Regions from separate parts of the Homo sapiens genome. Here region 2 is linked to region 1. Evidence: fine-mapped expression QTL. A gene starts in region 1. The other region holds a variant in brackets. All regions are shown on one strand. Distances are from middle to middle. Region 1 holds the start of EGFL7 (EGF like domain multiple 7). Region 2 overlaps RABL6 (RAB, member RAS oncogene family like 6).

The links. PIP is the estimated chance that this variant, and not a neighbour inherited with it, causes the effect. A credible set is the group of variants that fine-mapping cannot tell apart.
Region 2: its variant is the best candidate, but not a certain one, in a credible set for the expression of EGFL7 in whole blood (TOPMed, PIP 0.90).

What each region holds. Positions count from the first base shown.
Region 1 is chr9:136,661,066-136,665,436 of GRCh38, forward strand. EGFL7 (EGF like domain multiple 7) reads left to right here and starts at 1,851. Exons shown (of 11, transcript NM_016215.5): 1 at 1,851-2,043; 2 at 2,343-2,558; 3 at 3,627-3,720.
Region 2 is chr9:136,835,985-136,840,355 of GRCh38, forward strand. It overlaps RABL6 (RAB, member RAS oncogene family like 6), which reads left to right. Exons shown (of 15, transcript NM_024718.5): 9 at 1,362-1,678; 10 at 1,878-2,031; 11 at 2,925-3,137; 12 at 3,238-3,502; 13 at 3,710-3,881; 14 at 4,170-4,228; 15 at 4,338-4,371. Among named protein-coding and RNA genes, the nearest start is that of AJM1, 4.3 kb to the right of the region's middle. RefSeq lists an enhancer at 2,332-3,213. The variant C/T (reference allele first, on the strand shown) is at 2,216.

The DNA.
Region 1 (4,371 bases):
AGCCTACTGGGCCCCTATACGGTGGAGTAGCTAAGTAGCCGAGTGCACGAGTTGCTAAGGCTTGGCCCGCTGGGGGCCTTCCCGGTGAACTGACTGCTGTGCTTACAGCCAGGGGCGAGGGCAGAGTCTGGGTCCTCCCCAGGCTGTCCTCCTGGCACTGGACTCCTGGGTGACAGCCTGGGGGACTGGGCCCGGCCTGCTGCCAACTTGTTCTTCACTGCAACCCCCTCCTGACAGCTGGAGGGACAGGCTGGCCAGGGCAGGATGAGCCCCTGGGTGGGAGAGCCAGGGGGCCGAGGGAGGCACAGGGCGGCTGAGGGTGCAGCCAGTAGGGTAAGGGCCAGATCCCAGGGTGGCCTAGTGTGGAGGAGGTGGGGAAATGGGGTTCTGCCTATCTGCTCCAACCTCAGGGCAGGGGCCACCTCTGGAAAGAGGCCCCTCCCGCTCAGACCAGCGGTGCCTGGGTGCCAGGAGCGCCCCCTTAAACCAGCTCAGTGACCATGAAGCAGGTGCAGAAACAGGCCCGGAGAAGAGTGAGGTCCTGCCTGGCTGAGGCCCTGAGCCCTGACCACAGCCTGGCGCCCAGAGCAGACCCTTCCCCTGGCCGTGGGTAGAGGGGAGCTGGTTCCTGCTTGAGGGGGAGGCGCATCGCGTGTGGGTGAGGTTTCCACCTGCCCTCCAAAGTCCCGTGGGGAATTTCCCCAGCTGCCCCAGCCTCCCTTGGCTCAAGTTGCCCAGCTGAGTGGGGCTGGAGAGGTGGGGGCACACTGACCGCCCAGGGCCAGGGAAATGGGGGTGTCCCAGGCATCAGGCCGACAGGGGCTGACCCCAAAGCAGGGCTCACACCCCACGGACAGCGGGGTTGGGAGAGGCCCTGCTCTCCTGGGGTTCCAGGCGTGCCCTCCAAAGCCACCCAGCTCCCTTCGGCACCGTGTCCCCTCCCACCCAGCCCACCTTTGCCACAGTGGCTCGCTCGGCCTGAGGCTCCCACTGCCGTGTGAACAGGGAAGATGAGGGTCAGACCTGGAGGCTGGGACGCCGGGAATCTGACAGAGCACCCCCTGTGATCACCCACAGTGTCCCGCATCCCTCCCCACACCCCCGGCCGCAGCCTGCTGCCAGCCCAGAGCACCCCTGTGAAGTGGGGCTGAGGGCATTGGGCCTGCTTGCCCATCTCCAGGGCAGGGGCTCACAGCCTCACTGGCAGCTCTTTTAGGGGAGAGAGCTTGGACTCCATGCTTGTCCCCTCCCGTCACCCCCTCACCATGGGCCTCAGGGACCCACGGAACAGGCTGTTCTCGGACCGCTCAGCCTGTCTTGCCACCCCAGTCCCTTCCTGCCGGGCCTCGCCACTCGCCATCCCTCACTGGTCAAGGCTCCTGTGTGGCTGGTCCCTGCCTTGGCCTGGGGCCCCTCCAAGCTCCCGTGCTGTGTCACACACATCTGGGGGTGTCCTGGGGGAGGGCCCAGCATCCTTGGCCCAAAGATGCAGCAGCTCCCTTCTGTCCAGCCACACGTGAGCATGGCCTGTGAACCCACGGTCCTGGGAGGGCCCTGGGCTTGCGTCCTCCACCCCACACTCTCCCCAGGGTCTCCAGCAGGGTCCAGCCCTGGTTTCTGGCTGTTTTGGGGCTAGACTCTGATGGCCCAGGGGACGGCTTCCCCACCCCTGGGCAGTTTGTCCAGGCCCCCTCACACGGTGGCCCCCACCCCCCTCAGCCTCCTGTTTGTCCGACGACACGTCCCCGTTATCAGCGGAGAACACACACAGGAAGTCCGGCTGGGAAGGGCCCATCCCAATCCCGATTACCCAGGACGGAGCATAAAAAGCCGCCCTTCCTCGCCCGGGGGGAGCCTCCCTGCACCAAGCTGGCCCTGCACGGCTGCAAGGGAGGCTCCTGTGGACAGGCCAGGCAGGTGGGCCTCAGGAGGTGCCTCCAGGCGGCCAGTGGGCCTGAGGCCCCAGCAAGGGCTAGGGTCCATCTCCAGTCCCAGGACACAGCAGCGGCCACCATGGCCACGCCTGGGCTCCAGCAGCATCAGGTATGGCAGGGGTGGCCTCGGAGGGGCAGGGAGCGGACAGGGCGGGCCCCCCATTCCCCTCACTCCCGCTGACCGTGGCGCCTGCTGGCTGCTCCGCAATCTGCTCCCCAGCGAGGTCACAGGGGAGGGGTCCCAGTCTCCTCCCCTTCTGCACAGAGGAGGCCACTGAGGCCCCTTGGCCAAACGCCTGCTAGTGGGTGGCCCAGCGTAGATCCCAATCCAGTCTGCTGACTCCAACACTTCACCCCCAGTCGCCCTTCCCCTGAACCCCACCCTCTGGCCTTTCTCTCCCTCCGCAGAGCAGCCCCTGTGGTTGGCAGCAAAGTTCAGCTTGGCTGGGCCCGCTGTGAGGGGCTTCGCGCTACGCCCTGCGGTGTCCCGAGGGCTGAGGTCTCCTCATCTTCTCCCTAGCAGTGGATGAGCAACCCAACGGGGGCCCGGGGAGGGGAACTGGCCCCGAGGGAGAGGAACCCCAAAGCCACATCTGTAGCCAGGATGAGCAGTGTGAATCCAGGGTGCGGGACGTGGGGCTCGGGCTTAGGGATGACTTGCTGGGTGCGGTGGGCAAATGGGTGACTCTGTGGGCCCCCCTTGGACCCTGGAGACGCCCTTGTTCTCCCTCTCCCCAGCCTCATGCAGAGTGGCTGAAGCCCCATCCCAAAGCCCCCAAAACCACAGTGGGTCCTAGAAGGCCCCACTTTTTGTCTCATACGTCCACACCAAGAAGCCTGTCTGAGAACCCCCACTTTCCAAATGGTGCCTAGCCAGGATGGGGGCAGCGAGGGCTGAGTCGGGGCAGCCCTGGAGCTGCCCTTTCTGCTCCATCGCCTCTTCCAGACTCAGGCAGGAGAGGTGGGGAGGCAGGTCAAAGGGTTAAGTGACCGCAGATCCAGAGATGAGGCCAGGGGCAGGGGACAGGGAGGGTGGCGGTGGCTCTCCCACCCAGAGGCCCCCTAGGCCCCACTCTGAACACTTCACTGCTGGGGGCTAGGTAAGAGCTGCCCTGCGTGGGCTCAGGGCGCCAGGAGGCCTAGGACTCCCCAGTCAGATGAGGAACGCCCCCTGACAGCAGCTGCTCTGGTCGTCCCTTGGACCACGTGCCAGGGGCTTCCAGGGCCCCTGGTCCAGAGCAGTGGCCACTGGATTGCAGGGTGGGGCGGCCTCATTTTGGGGACTCCTCTCCAGGGACCTGGGCCCCTCCCTTCCTCCAGCTCCCATGCACCAAGGTAGGACCAAGCTGGTGGCCCTCTCGGACCCATCTGCAGGCCCCTTGCCCAGCACCCTGGGTTACATGGAGAGACCTCCAGCTCCACTCACAGCAGCCTCCCATCCCCATGCCAGGGAGTCCAGGGCTGGAGGCAATAACCCCATTTTACTGAGGCCAGGGGCTGCGGATCCGAGAGGACAATCAGCTCAGGACAGGATGGGGTCGGGGTAGGTGCAGGACAGGGGCCTGTAGGCCTAGTGCAGGCGGAGGTCCCACAGCAGCACCGAAAGCTGGTCCCGGGCCCCTTCCCAGCCCCCAGACATCAGGGTGACCAGGACTGTGCATAGGCACTAACCCACAACTCCTCTCCAACCAGCAGCCCCCAGGACCGGGGAGGCACAGGTGGCCCCCACCACCCGGAGGAGCAGCTCCTGCCCCTGTCCGGGGGATGACTGATTCTCCTCCGCCAGGTGAGTCCCAGCAAACCCCTTGCTCCGAGGGAACACTTCTCACACCGGCGCCCACGCGGGTTATGACACAGGGCGCTGGCTCCGGCTGGGGTCTGAGGGGCTGCTGAATTGGGCTGGCCCGAGCCCCACGTGCCGCGCCCGCAGTAACAGCTGTAACAATTGTTGTGTGGCCACGACCTCACCGTCACTAGATCCCAGGGCTGTTTAGCCCCATCTTATAAATTTGGAAATGGAGGCCTGGAGAAGAGAGGTGACCAGCCCAGGGACCTCTGGTGTGAGGAGACTCTCTGGGGGCCTGTGGATTCGCTGGGAGGAGTGTTCTGCGATGGCCCTGACTGTGCTGAACTCAGCAGTGACCCAGTGACCCCGGTGAGGGTGCCTGATGCCTGAGAGAGGGCCAGGTGGGGGCCGGCGCAGGGGCCCCCAACCTAACACGCTAAGGCTAGGAGGCAGGCCTGGGCTCTGCCATGTGGTCTCAGAGGAGATCTGGGTCTCTGGGCCTGCGGTGGGGACGGTCATGATGCCCACTGCCTGCGAGGCTGCAGGACCCAGCTCAGTGCTAACCTGCGCCGGGCGCCTACCGCGCGGCCCCCCAGCGGCTGAGATGGGCGTCCCGGGGTGGTTTTCAGCCTGGGGGGCTTGAAAGCTAGC
Region 2 (4,371 bases), 170 kb after region 1:
GGAGGAGGACTCAGGTTTGCACTGCCCCCAGCAGCCCCCCCACAGTCACCCCTGGCGTGGACTCCTCATACAGGTCATGCTGTGCCTGCCACTCTGAGTACCGCTGACCGTGGCCAGGTGCTGGTGCTCATGGAGTGCTGCTGGGGCTGCCTGCCCATCAGGGGCTTGGCCTCCCAGATTGATGCCAGCATGGGGTGTGCTTTCTGGGGAGCTGCTTGACTTTGGGAAGCTCCCTGTGTTGAAGAGGCATACAGGCCAGGACATGGAGGTCTCTGGTCCTCGATAGCAGAGGGCGGCTCAGAGCATCCTCCTGAGTGGGCCTGGGCAGTGCATAGCCCCGGGGTTGCGGCCAGTGGGACAGCTGGCCCGTTCTCTGCCTCAGGCTCCTGTACAGCTAGGGGCTTGGTGCCTCCCCTGGGACCCAGGCAGGGACCACGGAATCAGTGGCCCTCCTGAGGCCCCCCAGGAGGTCTCTGTTTCCAGAAGGAGAGCCCTGTGGGTCACCTTGGATCTGGCTGTTGGCTCAGACACAGCAAGAGACCGAGAGGGAAGGCAGTTTGATGCCTGGAGAGGGACCCGTGGCTTCCAGCTGCCAGGCCAGCCCCAGAATGGAGCCCCCCGCATGGGCGCTTCTCTGTTGAACCAATCCTGGCATTTCCTGGGCCTGAGAGTTGGGTCAGCTGGATGCTGCGATGGCCGCACGTGCTCCACCAAGCCCCAGCCCCCTCCTCTTCCCAGAAACCCCCGCTCACGGGAAGGTCCAGTTGCTGCCATCTGGCCACCTCTGCATGGAGCCCCCAACAGCTGTGCCTCAGAACAGATCCGAAGTGACTTTCAGGGGAGCTGGACACATGTACGCTGGTGCCTGCTGTCCCCACCCTTTGGCACTGCTGCTCTTTCTTTTTCTGAGATGGAGTCTCGCTCTGTCGCCCAGGCTGGAGCGCAGTGGTGTGATCTCGGCTCACCGCAAGCTCCGCCTCCCGGGTTCACGCCATTCTCCTGCCTCAGCCTCCCAAGTAGCTGGGGCTACAGGCACCCGCCACCACACCCGGCTAATTTTTTTTGTATTTTTAGTAGAGACGGGGTTTCACTGCGTTAGCCAGGACGGTCTCCACCTCCTGACCTCGTGATCTGCCTGCCTTGGCCTCCTACAGTGCTGGGATTACAGGCATGAGCCACCGTGCCTGGCTGGCACTGCTGCCCTTGGAAGTGGATGGGGATGATGGCCTCTGTGGGGCGGGTGGCCCAGAACACAGTGGCTCTTCCCAGCCCCAGCAGCAGCAGCAGAGAGCCCCCTGTCACCTGAGGGCCTCAGGGAGAGGCAGGGGAGCCAGGCTTCTCACCCGCCTTCTGCCTTTCAGCTTCCTGGAGATGATGGAGGCTCGCAGCCGTGGCCATGCGTCCCCACTGGCGGCCAACGGGCAGAGCCCATCCCCGGGCTCCCAGTCACCAGTGGTGCCTGCAGGCGCTGTGTCCACGGGGAGCTCCAGCCCCGGCACACCCCAGCCCGCCCCACAGCTGCCCCTCAATGCCGCCCCACCATCCTCTGTGCCCCCTGTACCACCCTCAGAGGCCCTGCCCCCACCTGCGTGCCCCTCAGCCCCCGCCCCACGGCGCAGCATCATCTCTAGGCTGTTTGGGACGTCACCTGCCACCGAGGCAGCCCCTCCACCTCCAGGTAGGCCCTGGAGCTGCCCCTCCCAAACTGGTCCCAGACCCCCAGGCCCTCACAGGTGGGGTCCTGGATTTCGGAGCGCTCCACGCTTCTTCCTGCTTGTCCCAGTCCCGTGGGCACATCCCGGGTGGGCCTGGCTTGGGGTTGGGTGCAGTGAGGGTTCTGGTGCCGAGTGAAGAGGACCCGGCATCACTGTTCACAGAGCCAGTCCCGGCCGCAGAGGGCCCAGCAACGGTCCAGAGTGTGGAGGACTTTGTTCCTGACGACCGCCTGGACCGCAGCTTCCTGGAAGACACAACCCCCGCCAGGGACGAGAAGAAGGTGGGGGCCAAGGCTGCCCAGCAGGACAGCGACAGGTGAGGGGTGGGCCTGGGCCTCCTCTCCCATTGCCCCCCAGCCTCCAGGGTGCCCGAGCAGCAGGTGGGGCTGGCTTTCTAGGGGCGCAGAAGGGGCCCCCCGCCGGCTGGTCACTGTTGGCTGAGGACAGAGCAGCTCTGTGGCTGGAGCAGACGAGGGAAGGGCTTGGACGGGGCTTCCAGA[C/T]ATCAGAAAGGCCTGGCCACCTGCTCTGCCCACACCCTGGAGAGGACAGGGGCACCTTGGGGTCTTCTGTGGGCAGATGCCACATGGAAGCCATTGGAGAGGCCACTGCAGGTCATATGGGAGGTTCAGGCCACCAGATGTGGTCTCCACAGGGCCAGGATCCAGGTGCTGCAGAGACAGGGGCGGCTTCCTGCAGGTCCTAGAGCTGGGAGCTAGAGCCGCCTCCCCAGCCATCTGCCAGCCCCTCCCACCACTCTGTCTGCCAAGCTGCCCCAAATTTTGCCTGCAGCAAAGCCCTGCATTTGGTCCCAGGACAGCCCTGGACAAGCTCCACCCACAGTGGCCTCAGCACCTCAGCCTCACCCATTGCTGTGGGGCAGCGGCTTCCTCCAGAAATACACAAAGGACAGAAAGCCCCGTGGCCCTGAGCTGGGCCCGCCTCCTCCACGAGCGCCCACTTGTGCGGCTCCACATCCTTCACCCACTGAGCGGCCGCAGGGCAGCACTGTGTCCAACCTTGTGCCCCCGACCCCTTCCTGCTCAGAAGCCCTGTGACCATGAGGGGGCCTCTCCACAACACAGCACCTGGGGTGGGGTGGCCCCACGGCCAGGGTGTGCTGGGTACCAGGGCGCCTAGAACCAAGGCCCGTGAGCCCGGCCAGCCATCCCTACCCCGTGGCCCTTGACCGCTTTGCCCCCTGCTTTGCAGTGATGGGGAGGCCCTGGGCGGCAACCCGATGGTGGCAGGGTTCCAGGACGATGTGGACCTCGAAGACCAGCCACGTGGGAGTCCCCCGCTGCCTGCAGGCCCCGTCCCCAGTCAAGACATCACTCTTTCGAGTGAGGAGGAAGCAGAAGTGGCAGCTCCCACAAAAGGCCCTGCCCCAGCTCCCCAGCAGTGCTCAGAGCCAGAGACCAAGTGGTAAGGGCAGGTGTCCCCACGGGTGCGGCCTGGAGACCCGGGTGGGGCAGTTCAGGACGCCTCCAGAGGACCCTGACTGACCCTCTGCTTGTCCACAAAGGTCCTCCATACCAGCTTCGAAGCCACGGAGGGGGACAGCTCCCACGAGGACCGCAGCACCCCCCTGGCCAGGCGGTGTCTCTGTTCGCACAGGTCCGGAGAAGCGCAGCAGCACCAGGCCCCCTGCTGAGATGGAGCCGGGGAAGGGTGAGCAGGCCTCCTCGTCGGAGAGTGACCCCGAGGGACCCATTGCTGCACAAATGCTGTCCTTCGTCATGGATGACCCCGACTTTGAGAGCGAGGGATCAGACACACAGCGCAGGGCGGTAAGACGAGTCCTCCCGGGGCAGAGGTCAGCCAGGTGGCCAGGGTCCCTCCCACAGGCCTGATCTGGGTGGGTGCAGTGGGAGGAGGCTTCTGGAAGAGGCATCTCATGTCCCCACACTTGGGCCTTGCCGGCCTGGTTTGAGATCCCACAACCCCTGGGGGTGTGGGAGGGATGATGGCCTGACCAGTTGCTCTCCCTGCTCCAGGATGACTTTCCCGTGCGAGATGACCCCTCCGATGTGACTGACGAGGATGAGGGCCCTGCCGAGCCGCCCCCACCCCCCAAGCTCCCTCTCCCCGCCTTCAGACTGAAGAATGACTCGGACCTCTTCGGGCTGGGGCTGGAGGAGGCCGGACCCAAGGAGAGCAGTGAGGAAGGTGGGTGGGGGCACCAGAGTGCGGTCAGCCTGCTGGAGTTTGGGTAGAACGTGGGCCTCCTCCCAGCTGCTGGCCGCTGGCCGGGGTCCTCTCCTGAGTCCAGGATGCTGTGCCATGCTCCTGGCAGCCCCCTGCAGGAGCTGATGTTTGCAGTGTGGTCCTGTCCATCAGCAGGGCCTCCTGGAGGGCTGGGGCTCGCTGCTTTGTGAGTTTCTAGAGAAGTCCTGTCACCCAGCTTGGGGTCCCCGTTGGCCTGAGTTTGAGCCACTGTCTGTCCTGTCTGTGCAGGTAAGGAGGGCAAAACCCCCTCTAAGGAGAAGAAGAAGAAGAAGAAAAAAGGCAAAGAGGTACTGGCTACTCCCCTTCCTGGCAGGCCAGGACTGGGTGGCATGCGGTCCTGGGACCAGGGCTGTGGCTTCCTGTGACTCCATGGCGCCCCATCCTTGTGCTCCTCAGGAAGAAGAAAAAGCTGCCAAGAAGAAGAGCAAAC